Regions from separate parts of the Homo sapiens genome. Here all the other regions are linked to region 3. Evidence: fine-mapped expression QTL. A gene starts in region 3. Each other region holds a variant in brackets. All regions are shown on one strand. Distances are between the middles of the regions.

What was found. PIP is the estimated chance that this variant, and not a neighbour inherited with it, causes the effect.
Region 1: its variant is the best candidate, but not a certain one, in a credible set for the expression of NSG1 in left ventricle (GTEx, PIP 0.77).
Region 2: its variant is the best candidate, but not a certain one, in a credible set for the expression of NSG1 in whole blood (TOPMed, PIP 0.85).
Region 4: its variant is the best candidate, but not a certain one, in a credible set for the expression of NSG1 in whole blood (INTERVAL, PIP 0.72).

What each region holds. Positions count from the first base shown.
Region 1 is chr4:3,989,304-3,994,572 of GRCh38, forward strand. All of the region lies in intron 1 of LOC105374359 (a long non-coding RNA gene), which reads left to right. Among named protein-coding and RNA genes, the nearest start is that of ADRA2C, 230 kb to the left of the region's middle. The variant C/T (reference allele first, on the strand shown) is at 2,089.
Region 2 is chr4:4,419,634-4,424,885 of GRCh38, forward strand. It overlaps STX18 (syntaxin 18), which reads right to left. Exons shown (of 11, transcript NM_016930.4): 9 at 3,885-3,954; 10 at 1,231-1,311; 11 at 1-496. The coding sequence ends at 401. Among named protein-coding and RNA genes, the nearest start is that of NSG1, 35 kb to the left of the region's middle. The variant G/A (reference allele first, on the strand shown) is at 2,237.
Region 3 is chr4:4,384,371-4,389,639 of GRCh38, forward strand. NSG1 (neuronal vesicle trafficking associated 1) reads left to right here and starts at 2,732. Exons shown (of 5, transcript NM_014392.5): 1 at 2,732-2,803; 2 at 3,234-3,388. The coding sequence starts at 3,260. It overlaps LOC112268462 (a long non-coding RNA gene), which reads left to right. Exons shown (of 3, transcript XR_007058004.1): 3 at 152-239.
Region 4 is chr4:4,360,681-4,365,949 of GRCh38, forward strand. No RefSeq gene overlaps it. Among named protein-coding and RNA genes, the nearest start is that of NSG1, 24 kb to the right of the region's middle. The variant G/A (reference allele first, on the strand shown) is at 2,410.

The DNA of each region.
Region 1 (5,269 bases), 400 kb before region 3:
GTGCCCATTGGTGCGTTCCTCTTGATGTCCAGCGCCCTTGTGTTCCTCCGCTGATGTGCTCCTCTCGAAGTCCAGCTGCCTGTGTGTCTGCCTGCTAGGGTCTCAGGGTTTTTATAGGCACAGAATGGGGGTGTGGCAGCCAGGGTGGTCTTGGGAAATGCAACATTTGGGCGGGAAAACAAAAATCCCTGTCCTCACCTAGGTCCATGGGCACAGGCCCTGTGGTGAAGCCCTAGCCAGGGACCACACCCTCCTCTACCCAGTACTTCCCTTCCTCACTTCCATATCATTTAAAGGGACCACATTCTTCCCTTCCGAGCACTTCCCTTCTGTATCACAAAGTGCTGGGATTATAGGCATGAGCCACTGGTCCCAGCCAATTCCGTTCTTTTAATGCAAAGTAGAAAATTGGTGTTCAGAAAGGCCTGCCCTATCCACCTCAGGGAGTTGCTATGAAGATCAAATTAGATCATGTGCAACAGAAGTTTAGAAAAGATTCCAAAAGCACTGTGCAACGAGAATGTATTTTTAAACTCCACTGAGTGGACTTAAAACTATGTTTTTTTTTTCTTTCTTTCTTTCTTTTTTTTGTTTGAGACAGAGTTTCACTCTTGTTTCCTAGGCTGGAGTGCAACGATGCCATCTTGGCTTACTGCAACCTCTGCCTCCCAGGTTCAAGTGGTTCTCTGCCTCAGCCACACGAGTAGCTGGGATTACAGGCGCTCACCACCATGTCTGGCTAATTTCTTTCTTTCTTTTGTTTTTGTCTTTTTAGTAGAGATGGGGTTTCATGTTGTTGGCCAGGCTGGTCTCAAACCCCTGACCTTAGGTGATCCACCCACCTTGGCCTCCGAGAGTGCTGGGATTAAGGCTTGAGCCACCGCACCCCACCTGTGTTTCTTTTTTAAGCAAGAAAACAAATGTCTCTCCCCAGCGCTCACTAAACAAATCCCTCTGTTTTTCTTTCCATAGGATTCTTATCCTTCTTGCCCCACTGCAAACAATCTATTTTCTTTTGGCCCTTCCGTCCATCTGTGAAAGGGTCAGGCTTTCTAGCTAACCCTTCATCAAATATTTTTGATGACCACAGTCAAGACAGTACTTATTATTTTTTTTTGAGACAGAGTTTCGCTCTTGTTGCCCAGGCTGGAGTGCAATGGCGCAATCTCGGCTCACTGCAACTTCTGCCTCCAGGGTTCAAGTGATTCTCTTGCCTCAGCCTCCCAAGTAGCTGGGATTACAGGTGCACAACACCACGCCCATCTAATTTTTGTATTTTTAGTAGAGATGGGGTTTCTCCATGTTGGTCAGGTTGGTCTCGAACTCCTGACCTCAGGTGATCTACCCACCTCTGCCTCCCAAAGTGCTGGGATTACAGGGGTGAGCCACCCTGACTGGCCAAGACAGTGCTTATTAATGCCTGAGATGCATTCAGGAGCACATGAGCTGGCTGTGACTGTTCTAACAAAGTTCCCCAAATGGGTGGCTCAGGACAACAGAAAGTCATTCTCTCCAGTTCCAGAAGCTTGGTGTCTGAAACGGGCAGGGCCGTGCTCCCTCTGAAGGCTCTAGGGATGAATCCTTCCTTGCCTCTTCTGGCTTCTGGTGGTTGCTGGCAATCCTTGGCTTGTGGCCACATCATTCCATTCTCTTCCTTCATTCTCACGTGGCCTTCTCCCCTGTGTGTCTCTGTCTCTTCTTATCTTTCCATGAGGATGCCATTATTACTGGATTTAAGGTCCACGCTATTCCAATATGACCTCTTTGTAATTAGATCTGCAGTGACCCTATTTTCTTTTCTTTTTTTTTGAGATGGAGCCTTGCTCTGTTGCCCAGGCTGGAGTTCAGTGACACAATCTCAGCTCGCTGCAACTCTGCCTCCTGGGTTCAAGTGATTCTTCAGCCTCAGCCTCCAAAGTAGCTGGGATTACAGGTGCATGCCACCATGCCTAGCTAATGTTTGTGTTTTTAGTAGAGACAGGGTTTTGCCATGCTAGCCAGGCTGGTCTTGAACTCCTGACCTCAAGTGATCCTCCTGCCTCAGCCTCCCAAAGTGTTAAGACTACAAGCATGAGCCACCATGTCTTG[C/T]CCCTATTTTCTAATAAGGCCACATTCTGGGATTCCTGGTGAATGTGAATTTTTGGAGGACAGTATTCAGTCTGGCAAAAGGCAGAACATCCTCATTTTCTTCCCTACCTCAGAAATAAGGAAGTTAACTTCGACCCCTCGGAGAGAGAGAGAGGCTTCCTGAGCTTCCAACTATCAATTATCCAAATATTAGTCACAGAAGAGCACTAAGGGTTGTGCACAGCACGTGGCCAGCCCGTTCTCAGAGTCTGTCAAGTTTAAGGTGAACGCTAATCCTGAATGAGTTTTAAAATGTATTTGGCATATCCTGGTCATTGTAAAATATTCTCACATTGTGATGGCTGGGGCTTCCCTCTCAGGTGTAATCTACGAAGTCAGAGGTGACACAGCCTGGGTGAGGTGGGCCAAGCTGGGAACTGGGTTAGGAGGGAGGCTGGGGAATGATCTCCAAGGTCTCAGATCCCAAACTGGCTTTAGCCTGATTCATCCAGAGGGATCTCATAAAAAACGCACATTCCGGGGCCCAACCCAGACCTAATGAATCAGAATTACCTGGGAAGAAGCCTGGGGAGCTCTGTTTTCAGAAGCAGCCCAGCCGAATCCTACGGTCAGACAGGGCTAGGAAACCGAGCTCAGTCTAGGGCGGTAGTTCCCAAACTCATCTGTGCTTCAAAAAATACAGATGCTGATGTCCAGGCATGGTGGCTCATGCCTATAATCCCAGCAGTTTGGGAGGCTGAGGCGGGAGTATCGCTTGAGCTCAGGAGTTTGAGACGAGCCTGGAGAACATAGGGAGATACTGTCTCTATAAAAAATTTAAAAATTAGCCAGGCGTGGTGGTGCCCGCCTGTGATCCCAGCTACCGTGGAGGTTGAAGTGGTAGTGTTGCTTGAGCCCAGGAGTTGGAGGCTGTAGTGAGCTATGATTGTGCCACTGCACTCCAGCCTGGGTAACAGAGCGAGGCCCTGTCTCAAAAACAAAACAAAACAAAAAACGGATGCTATGTCCCATTCCGGAGGTTAGGGTTCAATTGTTCTTCGGTGTGGCCTGGGTTTTGGAAGACTTAAAAAAAAATCCCAGGTGACCCTAAAGTGTAGATGAGTTTGGAAACCACACATTTAAGGCACACTTGAATGGGGGAGCAGTGAGGTGGCGCGGGCTAGCCGGCCAGAACCCAGGGGTGGGGCAGTAGGAACCAGCATTGCAGAGGCCATTGAGGCTGGGAAGCATAGTGTCTGGGGCCCATAACAATGCTTGGACATGAATGCTTTAGACCCAAGACAATTGGCTGCTAAATGTGCAAACTGCAAGGCTGAAATGAACGCATGTTTAATGCTTTACAACACTGTCAAGGGATCAGCTGCAACTCCGTTCTGAGGGCGTGATGCCTGAGATATGCCTGTAATGGGGGTGGATTTTAATGAATTTAATATGGTGTGGAGTCGGGCCTTCAAGAGTAAAGAGGTCAGTTCTAAGTTGGTTGCAGGGGTCTGGGCAAAGGTCTTAAAACCCCATGGTGAGCAGATGGCCAATCCTGAACACCCCAATTTTAAAACAGGGCTTTTTTTCCAAGAGACTTTTTGAAAATAGCTCCTATTTTGAGGGGAGGAACCCTGGCAGGAGAGAGCGAGAGTTAAGCCCAGCTGAGAGGGGGTTGGCAGGCAGGGGACTGCCTGGTCCTCACTGAAGCTTGATACTCAGGGTGAGCTTCCTAAACCAATGCAGATTTGCTGGCCCACTGAGCCTCCCAGATGAGAACCTGCATTTCAACAAGGTCCTCGGTGCAGCAAAGTTTGAGATATACTGGGCTAGAACACCCAGGGGACACAAAGGTTCTCTGAAAACTAAGGAAAATAGGCAGGGTGTGGTGGCTCATGCCTGTAATCCTTGTATTTTGGGATGCCAAGGCGGGCGGATCACCTGAGATCAGGAGTTCGAGACCAGCCTTGATCAACATGGTGAAACACCATCTCTACAAAAAATACAAAAATTAGCTGGGTGCGGCTGGGCACAGTGGCTCATGCCTGTAATCCTTGATTACAGTAATGCCTACTTTGGTAGGCTGAGGCGGGCAGATCATGAGGTCAGGAGATCGAGACCATCCTGGCTAACACGGTGAAACCCTGCCTCTACTAAAAATACAAAAAAATTAGCCGGGCGTGGTGGCAGGTGCCTTTAGTCCCAACTACTCGGGAGGCTGAGGGAGGAGAATGGCATGAACCTGGGAGGTGGAGCTTGCAGTGAGCCGAGATTGCACCACTGCACCGCAGCCTGGGCAACAGAGCCAGACTCGGTCTCAAAAAAAAAAAAAAAAATTATCTGGGTGAAGTGGCAGGTACCTGTAGTCCTAGCCACTTGGGGGGCTGAGACAGGAGAATAGATTGATCCTGGGAGACGGAAGTTGCAGTGGCCCGAGATCGCACCACTGCACTCCAGTCTGGTGGCAGAGTGAGACTCCATCTAAAAAAAATAATAAATAAATAAATAAAAAATAAAAATAAATACTGGGCTAGAAGACCCAGGAGACCCGAACATTCTCTCAAAACTAAGGAAAATAATCTAGGTCACAAATATATTCTCTTTCTCCTTCTCCCCATTGCCCCCCTTCACCAGGAATCTTTATAGACTCAAATCGAGTTGATGTTCTATAATCAATTCTAGTCACTTTTATTTATATTTATTTATTTTAGAGATGGGGGTCTCCCTATGTTGCTCAGGCTGGTCTCAAATTCCTGGGCTCAAGTGATCCACCCACATCGGTCTCCCAAAGTGCTGGGATTACAGGCATCAGCCACTGCACCTGGCCGTCACTTTTATTTTTGATGTTCAAATTATAAGCTAATGCCTGTGAGACCATAGATTCTTTTTATGCACTCAATACATTTTTGTGTTTACCTTACATTTGTATTATGGACAAATTCTGTTTTTTCCACTTGTTTCTATTTGATAATGAAGCCCTCTGTGCCTATCACCAGCCTCAGCCGCCATCATCTCATTACCAAGCTGGGTTATTTTGAAGCAAACATCTTCTAATATTTAGCCGGCGTTCAAATTTCCCTAACCATCCTAAATGAATGTTTAGAATAGTTGTTTTATTGGAAACAAGGTCAAAACAAGTACATTTTACATTTTTAGGCCAGTCTTGAAAGTAAGTGTAAAACCTTGTGTGGGGTAGGAGGTG
Region 2 (5,252 bases), 35 kb after region 3:
CCCTGAAGCTACCGGGATGGGAAAGGTCAGTGTCTTCCTTTGAACCCTGAGACAATTAGGGGCTCTTGAGGCCTGCTGTGCCCCTGCTGCCAAGGCAGCCTCAAGTTCAAGGAGCAGCTAATCACCCACTCCTGCATTCAGTCTGTCTTGCCTGATGAGGGCTACGCAGGCTGCCTCCCATTGGTGTGCACTGTTTCCTTTTTCAGCTGCTAAATGGCTGAACACCATCGGCCTGGGGTATCCCTTTTTGGGGAATACGTCTGTCTGTCTGAACTCCTTTCCCTTCAAATGGCACTGTGATAAAATCTGGTCATACCATGCTCCAGCACTGGAAGTACATGAAAGCACGCAGTCTGTGAGTGCCCATGAGGACTCTCGTGCTGGGCCCCCGTGGCCCTGGCTAGCTGTCGTACCAGTCGAGGAAGAGCAAGGAGAAGGAGCACATCACGAGGAAGAAGAGGATCCACACGCGGAAGCCAGCGTTGTTTTTAATGGCCTGGGCAGGGACGGGAGCACAGGTGTTTTTATCACACAGGATTTTGGTTTGAGCAGCCCTGAAATGCCCCCCTCTTCCCACGTGCTCTCCTGATCCTGGCTGTAACTATGGGTGTCGTTCCATCTGTGCTTACCTTGAATAGATGGCTTTTGAGATCCACCAGAAGACAAATGGGTTATATTTCCCTCTGTTTGGCCATCATTTGGGTCCTGCACAATTCTCCCTCAACACAACTCTCGGAATCACTCCCTTCTGTCCCAGGGTTAAGGGCCCCGAGCAGAGTGTGACCGCAAGCTTTGTGTTTCCCAGTAACATGATGTCCGTGGTGACCCAACCCTGAGGACTGAGCTTGGGAAACAGTCCCCTCAACAGGATGGCTGTAGTGTCCTCTGTAAGCAGGGGCCAGGCTCTGACCCCTCGGTGGGGGCCAACGAGCTACCCATGTACATCCCTGGACATGAAGAGCTGGCCTGACCCTGCCAGGAGTACCCCCACCCACCCTGGATTGCTCCTTTGGAGGCTGGTGAGCCACTGCCTCTCGAAAGCAGCTGGAGGTGGGCGACAGGTGGTGGGTCTCATGAACACACGCAGCTCCGCGGTCACACAATTTTGTGATCAGCCCCGTGAGCTCTGCCCAGCAAGGCTCCTGGGCAGCTGTGCCGGCGAGACTAACACCCGCTGCTGGGACTCAGTGCTGCGCCACGTCGCACCTGGGGAACCTAAACAGTGCCTACCTCTCTTATGTCTTCGTTGCCTTCCTTGATATTTTCAGTTGCCCCCACAACTAACTGGTGAATGCTGTCAATCTCAGCTTCCTGTGGAAGAAAAGATAAATACAAGTTGAGTATCCTTTATCCAAAAACCTGAAACCCAAAATGCTCCAACGAGCATTTCCTTTGAGTGTCATGTCAGCGCTCAGAAAGTTTCAGATTTTGGAGCACTTAGGACTTCACATTTTGAAGTTTAGGGATGCTTGACATATACAGCCACTTCCTCCTCCCTGAAGCGTATATCATGACAAGAACAGTAGCCGTCACCAAGGGCTAACGGCTTTACTTGCATAGCCACAAATCCTCACAGCACCCCAAGAAGTAGGTATTACCTCTATTTTATGAAACGGAAACTCACGGCTCAGAGAAGTTTACTAACTTGCCCAAAGTCACATCACACAGCAACCAAGTGGCAGGACTGAGACTTTTTTTTTTTTTGAGACAGGGCTTAAACGATCCTCCCACTTCAGCCTCCCAAGTAGCTGGGAGTATAGGCATGTGCCACCACGCCTGGCTAAATTTTTAAAATTTTTTGTAGAGATGGGGGGTCTCCCTATGTTGCCCAGGCTGGTCTTGAACTCTTGAGCTCACACCATGCTCCCGCCTCGGCCTCCCAGAGTGCTGGGATTACAGGCATGAGCCACCGCGCAGGGCTGAGACCCCATCTTGTTGCAGTGCTCCTTCCGCCACACTTACCATCCCTCCTGCGCCACTCGCCGGTGACGGACAAAAACCTAAGAGCTATTGTTTGTGGAGCAGCCACCATATGCCAGGGGCTTCCCTTCTAGTCTCTCATTTCTTTCTGAAGTCCACAGAAGTAAGCTTTAAAATGTATGTGCTTCGAAATACATATGCTAGCTTCAAAAATAGTGCTTTGTGTTTTACTATCATCATATCTCTTAAAAAACAGGCTAAAATTTAAAAATCAAAATAGGATGCAGGATGCTTACAGAAAACGTTTACTCCAAAC[G/A]AAGCCTTGAAAAGCTTGAGAAGCGTGGGATAACACAGGGGGCGTCTGGCCCCACAGGAGCAGAGACGGTGCTAGACGTCCTTACAAGCAGGAGTGCCTGCTTCTCTCCTCCTTTCGGTGGTGGTGAAGCTGCTTCCTAACAGGGTCAGGGCAGAATGAATGCTAGCGTGGGTTTTTAGAGAAACCTGACTGACACATTGTAGGGAGGAAGGCAGCATGTGGCCTCTGATTCCCAGCAATGAATATTACTGGGATGGCTTTGCCTCATCATCACCCCTTTTTAGAGAGTCTCAAAGTGTGAACTAAGTGACCACTGCCAAGGTTCCAATGAGAGAATCAATATGAACTACAATGCAACACTGATGGAAAAAACAAGAAAGACACATTGTTCCTCAGGACTTAGGAACTCCCAGTGGGCCGGGCGCAGTGGCTCTCGTCTGTAATCCCAGCACTTTGGGAGGCCAAGGCAGGTGGATCACCTGAAGTCAGGAGTTCGGGACCAGCCTGGCCAAGATGGTGAAACCCCGTCTTTACTAAAAATACCAAAATTAGCCAGGCGTGGTGGCATGCCTGTAATCCCAGCTACTCAAGAGGCTGACTGAGGCAGGAGAATCGCTTGAACCTGGGAGGATGAGGTTGCAGTGAGCCAAGATAGCAACATTGCACTCCAGCCTGGGCGACACAGCAAGACTCTGTCTCCAAAAAAAAAAAAAAGAAAAAGAAAAAAAAAGAAAAGAAAAAGAAACTCCCGGTGAGCCAAGGCAAGGCTCTGCCTATGCTCTGCACGCCCCTCCCAGGCCCCCTGGAGCCGCTGGGAGGTTTGAAGCAGGGTAGTGTTATTAAAAAGGGCGACTCCTATGAACCCGAACTTGCAAACCACTGTTAGACTTAATGTACCTCATTTACAATGATTTCACTCTGGCTGTGTGGTTTATGGAAAGTCATTTTGTGAGTGAAGTATCTTAAGTCAAGTAGTCCAGTTTAAAATACTGGAGAAAATTTTGTCTTTCAAACGTTCCCATAGTCTTTGGATGCTAAAAATAAAAGGGCAAATTTATCAGGTCTTGAAAAGTTTTGCCAGTTATTGGCTGGAAGAATTTCAGAAAATTCACTTGAAAAGAACAATCCTATTTCCCACGCAGACACCATCCCTGAGGTGGCATGGACCGCGCGTTGTGAGAGGCCTGGGTCTGAGCTCCTGTAACCTACTGACTGAAAAGCAACTGCCCGTCAGCATCGTGCTGGATGCTTCTGCAGTTATCTCTCAAACAGAGAATAACCCTGCAGGAGTCCCTCCCTCCTATAGATGGGAAACTGTAGCTTGTGGGGGCTACCTAGCTTACCCAGCACATCCAGAACCCTGACTGCCAGGCCTGGACTCTCCTCCCACGTGCCACCGCATGTGCTACCACATGGGGTGGTCAGTGGGTCCCCTGTGGGGAGCTCCTCCTCCATCACACGTGTGCAGAGGCAGCTCTGGGTAGTGAGAGCTTTTCCCTGAGGAGCTCTGCGCACACACACCTGCTAGCAACACATGGCTCTGCTCCTGGCTGTGTAGAGCAGCAGCCTTTGGGAAAAATGTCTCGTGCTCTCAAGTACATTCCCCTTTGAGTGAAAACATACAGCTCCTTTGTTTTTGTTTTTTTACCTGTTGCAAAACCTTTTCCGTGAATATCTCTTGGAGTCTGGAAATCTCAACCACTCTCCCTTCGATTTGCCTTCATAAAAAGAACAGATTACATATTAACTATTAGCACTTGGTAATCTAACAGGACTGTTACACACTTCTAAAGAAATCCTATCTTCTACGTGAAGGTGGGAGAGACAGGGGGCACACTGTGTCGGCTGGGGGAAGAGGAGATGGGAGAGGAAGGCGAACTCTCCTTACTGGGTCACCTTCCCTGTCTTCTGGCATAGCCTAGCACACTGGTCTTTTTGGAAGTCCACTCTACCATGCCAACTGACCCTCAGTCCCAAGAGGTGGGTGTGTGCAGTGCCCTTTGCATTCTGTGTCACTGCTCGGGGAATGGGGAGGGCCTGGTTGTGCCCCAGTTACAGAAAGCAGTCTCCAGTAAGTTCTCTGCCTAGCCTCATCACCATGGTAACACATGGTGGGGATTCAGAAGGTCAGAATATGCTGATGATCCAGCTTTGTTAATGCTCAGCAGGTTAAAGAAAAAAGTGTATTTACCTTCAAACCAACTCCCTGTTCCAAGAAAAAAGCTCCTCTGATTCATTTAGAAAATGCCATGTCTTGGTTTGGCAACGGAGTGTTCTGTCGGATCTGAAACACTTGGGCTAGCCATCTTCCTGGTGTCAGGGGCAGCATGGGCTACCCTGGGGGGCGGGTGGGGGCACATCTATTTAGAAACAGAAGCTGGCCCAAGCTGAAGTCAACTGCTGTTCCAGCACAAAGCAGCGACAGGAAGTGACAGGAGGCAAAAAGTGGTGGGAGCTGAGCTCCTGGCCAGGTGGAAGCAGTGATGAATCCCAACAGTATCACAGTGGCAGGGGGCAGGGGAGGAGATGTGGGAAGAAAAGCCAGTGAGTATCTGGGCATGGGGGAGTAGCGGGGTGGGGGCGGTAGTGGGGCAGACAGTGAAAGCTAGGCTGTCAGAGGAGGACTAGGAGGTCCATCTCTGAGGGCAGAAGGCGAAGAGCCCCTTGGAGGCTGACACCTACACTGAGAAAGTCCTCAGGCTGTGTGAGTGCAGCATCAGGATTGATTTTATTTGGGGGACATGTCCACAATACAACAGGCTCTGCAAAGTCCTGGGCCTTACTTTCAGCATGCTCCAAGCCTTCCCACAGAAACTAGAGGCTAACGGGTGCATGTGTGAGTGACCAAGGCCTTGCCTTCTGCATTCCTGACTCCCTGGTGGGTACAGGAGCAGGCAGACCCCAGTGGAACCATTTGCAGAAGAGGGCTTCCCTTGGTTAGCTGCCCTTCATAAGGGCCCCATTTCATTTCAGAGTCGCTGCGTGGAAACAGCCCGAATGGTGGTGGAAATTATAC
Region 3 (5,269 bases):
AATGGCGACCCTTAAAAGATATGTCCACATGCTAACCCCGGGAACCTGATTTACCTTACATAGTAAAAGAGTGAACATTATCTTATATGGCAAAGATAGGATTAAGTTAAGGATTTTGAGAGGGAGACCTTATCCTGGATTATCCCAGCAGGCCCTAAATCCTATGATGAGTGTCCTTATAAGAGACACAGAGAAGAGGAGGAGGCAATATGACTGGAGTGACATGAAGGCAGAGATTGGAGTGATGCAGCCACAGTCAAAGAATGTCTGGAGCCACTGGAAGCTGGAGGGGGAAAGAACAGGTTCTTCTCTGTGGCTTGTAGAGGGAGTGAGGCCCTGCTGGGACCTAGACTTTAGACTTCTGGCCTCCAAAGCCAGGAGAGAACATGTTTCTATTGTTTTAAGCCAAATTTGTTCCAACAGTGGCAGGAAGCTCATATACTGTCTTAACACATTCTGTTCTCCTACCTGGAATGCCTTCCCCTCTGCACGCACCTCTCTCAGGCCCACCTGTAGGAAGCTTTATCCACAGTCTTTACCCACAGTCTCTGGATGTCCTCCCTCCTGGCAAGAGGCAGAGGCCACTCTCCCACAGGGCCACTGCTCCCAGCAAAGACTTGCCCTTGTCCGTAGCTCCCTGCGGGTGGCGCTGTGTCTCATGCATTTTGCATTGTCCATGCCCTTCACAGGGCCCAGATACAATCAGCAGAGGAAGAAAACCACAGGATGAAACAGTCCCAATGACCAGCACCAGTGAAGACCCAAGACAGCACAAAAGGCCAGCTAGCAGAGAAACATGATTGTTCACCGTCCATCTCTGGGACAACCTAGGTCCTTCTTGCCTTTCTGTCCTCCTCAGTTGACAGAGTCTCTAAGGGAGGGGCAGGGCCTCCACTTTGTTCCTCCTGGTGTGGAATTCTGACCAAGTGTGTGTGTGTGTGTGTGTGTGTGTGTGTGTGTGTTTGCGCGCGCGCGTGTGTGTTGGGTTCTGTTAAATGCTTGAGCCTGAGACGGGGGGCGGGGCGGGGGGGGGTGCGGGAAAGCCATTTCCTTGCTTAAGCCCAAAGGGTTTCTCCTGACCAGTGGGTCACTCTCATGGCAGATGCCTGGGCAGATTTCTGAAGTGGAGCAAGAGAAATCTTCTCTTCTTCACCTGCTTCAGGGAGGCATCAAAGTGCCAAAAAGGTGGGTTCTGTGGGTCCCCGAGGCCCGTGGCAGGGGCCAGAGTCTGACACCCGCTTTCCCTGGGTTGGGGGCGGGGTGCCTCTGCCAGGAGCCTGGGTTCAGACCAGGCTGGCCTGTGGTCAAAGGCACACTTAGACCCTGGCTGGAGAGTTGGGGCGAGTTACGAGATACCCACTAGGTCACCTGTCAAAGACGGCTAGCCCTCCTGGGGATTTTGAAATCAGGGCACCCGCGGCAAGTTCCCAGGCTGTGCCTGGGGCTCAAGGCGGTGGCTGCTCCTGTGCTCTGGGCTTATTCCCAGGATTCTCAGACGGCTGATGGAAAACGCCCCGGACCCTCCGTAGTGCCGCGGGGAAGTCCCCGGAAAGGGTGTGAAAAAGTATCGAATTTGGGTGATGCCTCCTCCTCGTCCAGCGCCTGACAGGGCCCAGCTCCTGGCCCAGGTGCCCAGGAGGCACCGATCCCCGCAGCCGGCCTCCTCCCGCGCGGGCTCCACTCCCATTTCGGCCTCGCCCCCACACCCCATAGTCTTTCATCCGTGAGTCCTGCAGGCAGGACGGGTTGGAGGTCTGCAAACAGGACCCTCTCTGGGAAGCCGCGACAGCGGCTGAGCTCGGGGTTTGGGGGCGCAGGTCGGGCTAGAACCACCCCCCTTCTCTCCGCGTCCGGGCATCGTCCCAGCGGCCCCTCCTCTGTGCCCAGGATGCTCGGGCGGCGGCTGCAGTGGGACCTCCACCTTCTCTGCCAACCAGAGCGGAGGAACCTTTCCGCCTCCCTCCAAGCGGCGCACTGAGCGCTCTTTGCCTAGAACGACTTCCCTCCCGCTGCCTGGGGCAGCCTCACCCTGGGCGCCCACACCCCAGCCCTGGGAGAGCGCTACTCCGCCTCCCGCACCACCGAAAACCTCCTCCTCCTTTACGGGCCGCGCCTCCTTTACGGGCCGCGCCCCCTTTATACGCGGACGCGCCCTCTTTTGGTCGCCCCCTCCCCAACCCAGCACTAAGGAGCACCCTGCTCTGGTCTCCGCCACCACCCAGCGCCTCCTGGACCCATCCCCCCAAACCCTTGAACGTCCTCAGGACCCCCAGGTGAGCGCGGCGCGCTGCGGGCGGGGACCCTCTCTGCACCTCCCCGCACCCCTGGGGGTCGCTCTGTCCCTACGGTCCCCGCCTCCCCTTTCTCCTTTCTAAGCGCCTCGCGCCCAGGCCGCCGCCCGGGGTGGCGCAGCCCGCAGCCCTCCCGCTCCGGGCGCCCTCCGCCGCTCCGAGACCCCCTGGGGGCGCGTCCTCTCCCGCTCCCCTGTTCCCTCCCCCGGCTCAGGGCGGGCGCGTGGTCCCAGGGGAGGCTCCCGCCCAGCCCCGCACTCCTTTGTGCGGCCGGGCGGGCGCTGCGTCAAGGTGGAGGCGCGGCCACACGCGCGCACCCACCCGCGCGCACCCAGCCCCCGGGAGAGGCAGGAAGGGAGGCGGCGGCGCGAGGAGGAGGGAGCGGCCGTGGAGCCCAATCGTTCGCTCCCCTTCCCGGGTCCGCGCGCGGCGCCGCCTCCGCCATTGCTGCGAGCAGGAGCAGGAGACGCGGAGCTCGGAGCGCTCAGCTGACCTGCCGGAGCCGGGCGTGGGTGAGTGCGGCCGGCCGCGCCTGGGCTTGCCGAGGCCAGACCTTGCCCGCCCAGGAGCAGTGCCCGGGGGATGCCCATCTCCCGGAGTACGCGGGACGGGGCTGTGAACAGCGGGTCGCCCGGGTGCGGCGGCCCCAGGACCGGGGACCGGGTCTGGAGGTGCTGGGCAGGGGCGGCGCCCCCTTCCCTGGCCGCGGTGCGCCCTTGCGCCCGGCGCTTGGGTCCTGCGAGATGAGGGTCTAGAAATACACAGCACCACCCGACCCCCGCATCGGGCCGTGACCACCGCGTCCCCACGAGCCCTCCCCGAGACGAAGCGGGGCCGGGGAGCTCGCGGACGCCGGGACGCCGGTGGGTGTGGGTGCCCACTTCCCCCCCGCCCCGCCCCGGGTCTTGCTTGTGGTGACTCCCCCCGGCCCTCCCGCCGCAGGCTGCAGCCTCGGAGCTCCCGGAACGATGGTGAAGTTGGGGAACAATTTCGCAGAGAAGGGCACCAAGCAGCCGCTGCTGGAGGATGGCTTCGACACCATTCCCCTGATGACGCCCCTCGATGTCAATCAGCTGCAGTTCCCGCCCCCGGATAAGGTAAGCCCCCCCACGCCCCTCCACGTTGCCGGGTGTGCACCCCCAAATCTCGCACGGCGGGCGCAACAAAAGAAACGCGCCGCGTGCGCTGGGTACGCGAAGTGGGGGCGGGCTCGGGAGGCCGGAGGGAGCGCGGCGAGGACAGTGTACCCGCGCGGGATTCTGGATCGCGGGATGCTGGGCGGGGGAGGGGAGCCCTGCCTTAGATGATATTCTCGTCCTGACAGTGGAACGCGGTGGGGCAAGATTCCTTCGCGTTTTTCCTGGGAGCCTCATCCGAGAGGGCCCTGGCCCCGCAGCTGCCCTGCTCCTCCCTTGCCCCGTGGCCCCAGGGGCTCTGGATCGGGGGTGAGCCTAGGGGCGGGCGAGGCTGCCCCTGTACCTTCCCGGGTGTGGCAGTTCAGCCCGACTTGCCCCACCGAGGCGGGGGAGCGTTCTCCTTGGTCAGATGGCCCCTCCCCAGGGCTGAATTGTTCTCGCCCTTTCTGCCTGCCCCTGCCAGGCTGGCGCTAGGTGCAGGAGGGTGTGCGCGCTCACACAGGGTCTCCTTCCTCTTTGTTCCTTTTGTGAAATCTCCAAATAAGTGCCCGGGCTCGCTCAGTATTGGTGTCACTGGGAAAAACCATTCATCAACCTTTCCCCAAAGTGTTTTCTGCTGAATTTAAAGAATCTCCTCTTTTTGAATGTAGCATCCAATTAAGTAGTTTCTGTTTGCTAAGAATAATATTTCCAAGAGTTAACACTTAAAAATGTAAATAGATCTTTGCATGTCTAGGCAATTGTACTGTAAAATTCACATCTAAGACCATAGACACAGCATCTACTCTCAGCATCTTGCTGCCGCTTACGAACCACCACAGCCACGAATAATTCCCGGAAGTGCTTTTCTATTTATTTTCTCATTTAGTCCCTGGTGAAGGGGCTCTGAGCCAGGGCTCTGTCTTCGTTCCAGCAAGTTGGTGATTGCTGACGGGGTGGGTGTTGTGGGGTGGGGGTGTCCTGGTGGGGGCCCTGACCCCTGTGAAGGTGTCCTCCCAGCTTTATTGTGTGTGTCGTCTGGGGAGGGAGGCAGGAGCCGGGAAGAGGCTGGCAGCGGGGGTTTCAGTTCAAGAAAGGGGGATCAGCCGGCCACACCTGTGCCCCCCAGGCCACGGTGGTGCCACTCTGGGCCACTGATGGTCCAGGCTAGGCTTTGCAGGAGGGGCAGGGCTGCCTGAGGCCTCAGCTTCCACTCCACCCCTCCCTGTCTAGGCATCAGACTCGTCCAGTTAGCGGGGCCTGGCCCCGAGGCCCCCACACCCCCTCCTGCCTGGGCCCCCAGCTGCTCGGCTGAGGAGCAGTGGCGCCTGTGCCAGGAACTCCGTGTCCTGAGGCAGCACCTCTATCAGGTGATTCCCCTCACTTGGCCTGAGCCTCCTCTCTTGTCCTCAGTCTGTTCCATTCCAGAACCATTTGGCACAGTTGGTTTATACAGGGAGGAGGGTTTCAGGCAGGTATGAAATCCTCACCAACTAATTAGGTCGACCAGGAGTAGCCTAGGCAGCTCGGAAAGGTGATGAGTCTGCTCTCTCTGCAAGCGTCCGAAGCGGGGCAGCCAGCAGGGATGCTCTTCTCGGGTCCAGCCAGACCTTCCATCCCGGACTTCCCGCCGGGACTGAGTGTGGGTACAAGGGTTATGGCTCTTGGGATCATTTTCCAGAAGGCTTCTAAGGTCACAATGAGGGAACTGAGCCTCAGAGCATTTATGGGACATACCCAAGGTCACTGGGCTGAAGGTTACAGTCCTCCAGGATGCAGAAGTTTCTGGCAGTGCCTCTTACTCCACTGTGCTTGGAGCCAGATGTCTCTCACGTAAGACCTCTCTTAACCTGAACAACAGCA
Region 4 (5,269 bases), 24 kb before region 3:
CCTATTGCAGTTACACTCTCTCTGAACCACTGCCTTCTTCCTTAAAGTGGGAATAATAATACTTTTGCGAAAGAGCACTGAGGGGGATCCAGTGAGGTCAGGAGGAAACAACGTCTTGGTTTCTGTCCTCGAAATGGTTTCCCCACTCAGCTCTCTCACTCTAGACAGCTGCTATGTGAAAGGAAAAGAAATCTTGGGGCCCCAAAATCACTAAGCTAAAGGGAAAGGTCAGGCTGGGAACTGCTTAGGGCAAACGTGCCTCCCATCCTATTCCAAGTCACCCCTCTGCTCACTGAGATAAATGCATATCTGACTGCCTCCTTTGGAGGGGCTAATTAGACACTCACAACAATGCAACCAGGCCAGGTGCAGTGGCTCATGCCTGTAATCCCAGCGCTTTAGGAGCCTGAGGCGGGCGGATCACCTGAGGTCAGGAGTTCAAGACCAGCCTGACCAATATGGAGAAACCCTGTCTCTACTATAACTACAGTATTAGATGGGCATAGTGGTGCATGCCTGTAATCCCAGCTACTCGGGAGGCTGAGGCAGGAGAATCAGTTGAACCTGGGAGGCTGAGGTTGTGGTGAGCCGAGATTGCGCCATTGCACTCCAGCCTGGGCAATAAGAGCAAAACTCCATCTCAAAGAAAAAACAAACAAAAAAAGAATGCAACTGTTTGTCTCTTATCTACCTAGGACCTGGAAACCCCCTCCCCACTTTGAGTTGTCCCGTTTTTGCTTCCAGTTGTCCCACCTTTCCGGACCAAACCAATGTTAATCTTACATATGTTCATTGATGGCTCATATCTCCCTAAAATGTATAAAACCAAACTGTGCTCTGACCACCCTGGGTACATGTCGTCAGGACCTCCTGAGGCTGCGTCACAGGCGTGTGTCCTCAACCTTGGCAAAATAAACTTTCTAAATTAACTGAGACCTGCCTCAGATTTTCAGGGTTCACAGCTAATTCTGTGTGGGCTGTGCACAGTGGCTCACGGGTAAGCTGCCCACGGCAAGATTCGGCCAGTGTCAGCTTTTTGTCCTGCACAGAACTCAGCACATGGAACTGCCCCATTTGACATCAGCCACCAGGATATTCATACCCTTGTCAACACAGGCCCTTCCTACACATGGTTTTCAGAATTTATTTGACAAGAAGCAGTGAGTGCTTATTTTTAGACTTGTTTTGTGCTGAGAAATTAAAGACGTAAGAAAACCCTCCTGAGTGTGTGTTGAACATGTGGGGAAACACTCAGGAGGGTAAGAAAGAGGCTTCCAGATGATTTAGGATCTGGAGCTTGGACGTGACCAAAGCCAAGCCCATATGTGGGGGCTGGGCAGGTGTTACACAGACACAGTGTCAGGTGGGGAAGTGGTACAAAAGCAAGCCCTAACCGCACACCAGCCTTGTGGCTGTAGACACCCTGGGCTCAGCTGATGACACCACTTATGAGCTGTAGTGGGTTGAATGGTGGCCCCTAAACAGATGTGTCCGTGCTCGAGTCCCCAGAACCTGCGAGTGCCACTGTGTTAGTCTGTTCTCACGCTGCTGTGAAGGACCGCCTGAGACTGGGTAATTTATAAAGGAAAGAGGTTTAATGGACTCACAGTTCCACATGGCGGGGGAGGCCTCAGGAAACTTACAATCATGGTAGAAGGGGAAACAAACACATCCTTCTTCACATGGTGGCAGGAAGAAGAGTAAGAGCCTAGCAAAGGGGGAAGCCCTTTAAAAAACCATCAGATCTTAGGCCAGGTGCTGTGGCTCGTACCTGTAATCCCAGCACTTTGGGAGGCCGAGGCGGGCAGATCACCTGAGGTCAGGAGTTTGAGACCGGCCTGGTCAATATGGCGAAACCCCGTCTCTACTAAAACTATAAAAATTAGCCAGGTGTGTTGGCCCATGCCTGTAATCCCAGCTACTTGGGAGGCTGAGGCAGGAGAATTGCTTGAACCTGGGAGGCGGAGGTTGCAGTGAGCCGAGATTGCGCTACTGCACTCCAGCCTGGGTAACAGCGTGAGACTCTGTCTCAAACAAACAAACAAACAAACAAACAGAAAACAACCATCAGATCTCATGAGAACTCACTTGCTATCACGAGAACAGCATGGGGGAAACTGCCCCCATGATTCAATGATCCCCACCTGGTCCCACCCTTGATACATGGGGATTATTACAATTCAAGATGAGATTTGGGTGGGGACACAGAGCTTAACCATATTAGCTACCTTATTTGGCAATAGGGTTTTGCAGATACAATTCAGTGAAGGATCTCCAGAGATCAGCCTGGATCATACAGGTGGATCCCAAATACAGTGACAGGGTCCCTGCAAGAGAAAGGCGGAGGGAGATTTGAGACCAAAGAGAAGGCCTGGAAGAGGCCAGCATGGATTCTCTCCTAGAGCAGTC[G/A]GAGGCAGCAGCCCTGTTGCCACTGTGATTTCAGACTTCTGGCCTTCAGAACTGTGGGAAAATACATCTGTGTTGTTTTAACCCATGCAAGCTGTGGTATGTGTCATGGCAGCCACAGAAAATGAATGTGAGCTTTGTGACTGAATTTCCAAATCATCTCAGTCTCAGTTTCCTCACTGGTAAAGCGTCCCTAACTTACACAATTATTCTGAGGATTAACTGAAGGATTTAGGTCGAACCGTATTAAATCGCCACTTTTTGTAGGTCAAAAATGACTGGATGTTGGCAGTTGCATCAGAGCCAACCCAGTGATCGGTGAGAAGTGCCCAGCATGGCAGGGAGCACGTGGTGAATGCACGGGGAGCGCCGTGTATGCACAGCGGGTGCTGTCGGGGCTGATTTCTCCAGGGGAGAGTAGCATCCACACTGGCCCCAAGGGATGGGCAGGAGCTCATGCGGAAGGAAAGGGCTGCTGGGCGCTGGGGGGCACCCACGAGACAGCAGTGTGGGCAGAGCACAGACTGGGGCAGGGAGGGGAAAGGCAGCTCTGGAGGGGCTGGGAGGGGACAGAGGGTGCAGGAGGGTTGATATATGCACCTACTGAATACACAGCCCTCTGTGCCTGCTCAGCCGCCAGAGGGGGTCTCTGCACCCTGCTACAATGGTGATTTTGCTGAGACAAGCCTGAATGCATTACACCCGGCGTCACCTGTGTTTCTAGCCTCTGTGAACTTGACACTTCGTTGACATCCATCCTCCATGCATGGGCCAGAAAGGCCTTGTTCTGAACAACCTGATAATGTGCTTAAGTCACCGTGCCTGACCTCCTGCCTCCCTCGTCACCTCCCCCACTCCTCAGAGGAGTCCTCTTCTGGGTAGAGGCACTTTTCAAATACAAACCAACCAACCCAGAGTCCACGCTGCAGCCACCTGTTTTTCTAGGCTCTACTGCTCCAGCCACATCTACCTGTCCTCATCAGCTCAGGGCAGGTACCAGATTAGTAGGGACAGCCTTGTGCCCTGGAGCAGCTTTAATTATTCAAACTGGCCAATCCTAAGCCTGCCTACCTTTCTTGCTGGTTCTGTCCCACAGCAACCACAGTCAAAGTGCCCACTCACTGCTCTCCCCTTTGCCTCCTCCTCGTGACTGTGCCCATCTTCCTGTGTGGCCCCAGGCATGGCCTGCCGCCTCCTCTTGGAAACTGTGAGTGACAAACAATCTTTTTATTGGCAGGCGTCTTGTGATCTGTGGGCCTTCAGGGACTTCAGATGTCCTATGAATACACTGTATTTTTAAACATCCCTGCTCAAAACTCTTCACTAGGTTATGTATGCTTGGGAGAAAGTTAAAAATTCCCTAGTTTATTAGTCAATTTTCATGCTGCTGATAAAGACATACCCAAGACAGGGCAATTTACAGAAGGAAGAGGTTTATTGGACTTACAGTTCCACATGGCTGTGGAGGCCTCACAATCATGGCAGAAGGCAAGGAGGAGCAAGTCACATCTTACGTGGATGGCAGCGGGCAAAGAGAGAGAGAGCTTGTGCAGGGGAATGTCTCTTTATAGAACTATGAGATCTTGTGAGACTCATGATCATGAGAACAGCATGGGAAAATCCCGCCCCCACGATTCAATTACCTCTCACCAGGTCCCTCCTGGAACACATGGGAATTCAAGATGAGATTTGGGTGGGGACACAGCCAAACTATATCACTTAACCTTGTGTATCAGTGTCCTGTGGCTGCTGTAACAAATTCATTAGCACACATTCAGTGGCTTAAAATGAGAGCAACTTTTGCAGTTCTGGAGGGCAGAGACCTGAAATGAGTTTCATGGGGCTTAAGGCAAGGTGTTGGCAGGGCTGCACTCCTGAGGCCCTGGGAGAATCCATTTCCAGCTCCGGGAACTGCTTTCTTCACATTCCTCGCATTCCTCAGGTGGCAACTCCTTCCTCCATCTTCAAAGGCAGCAGCGTCACATCTTGCTCCAGTTTTTCTTCTGCATCAAACCTCCCTCTTATAGGGACACCTGTGATTACATTCAGGGGTCATCCGATAACCTAGAATAAGCTTTACACCCAAAAACGTTTAGCTTGGTCTCAGCTGCAAAGTCCCTTTTGGCATATAAGGTAACAGCCATAGGTTATGCAGATTTGGACGGGGATAACCTTGGGGGCCATGTTGCAGCCAAACACAGCCGCCATTAAAAGCTTCTGCTTCCCTTGGCAACATCAGCTCCTCACCTTCCCACGTGCCCCATCTAGCCCTGCTTAGATGTGCCAAGGGGCTGCTCCTTCTGGAATGTTCTCCCTGCCCTTCCTCAGGGCCCTTCTGTCTGGAGACCTCATGAATAACCTCCTGGTGGCAATTCTCAGGCACCCCCAGAGCATCGTGTCTGCACACCTCACCTCTCATGCAGAATCTGAATCCTGGGCCAGTTCAGGACTCACACCAGAAAGGGCACATTGATGAAGAAGCACATGTCTTACCTGGGGTGACCCTGAAGGTACAAGGTTAGACAGGAAGGTACAGCTAGGTAAAAACAGTTGGAGGTGCTGAGAATGCCTGGAGAAAAGAAATGCCAGGGGCACAGTCTCTGATGGGTTAGCACAAGATTAAAACTCACAGCTGACACTGGGCTCTTACTATGTGCCAGCCACATGGATGATTCTAACTTCATCTTCCCAACATCCCCAAGTGAAACTAGTATTAGGTCCATTTTATAGGTGAGGAAACTGAGGCACAGAGTTTCAATAACTTCCACAAGGTCACACAGCTGGTGACCTACAGCAGAGCTGGGCTCTGATCAGGAAGCCTGGTTCCAGGGCTGGCACCATCCAGCATGATGTGACAGAAAAG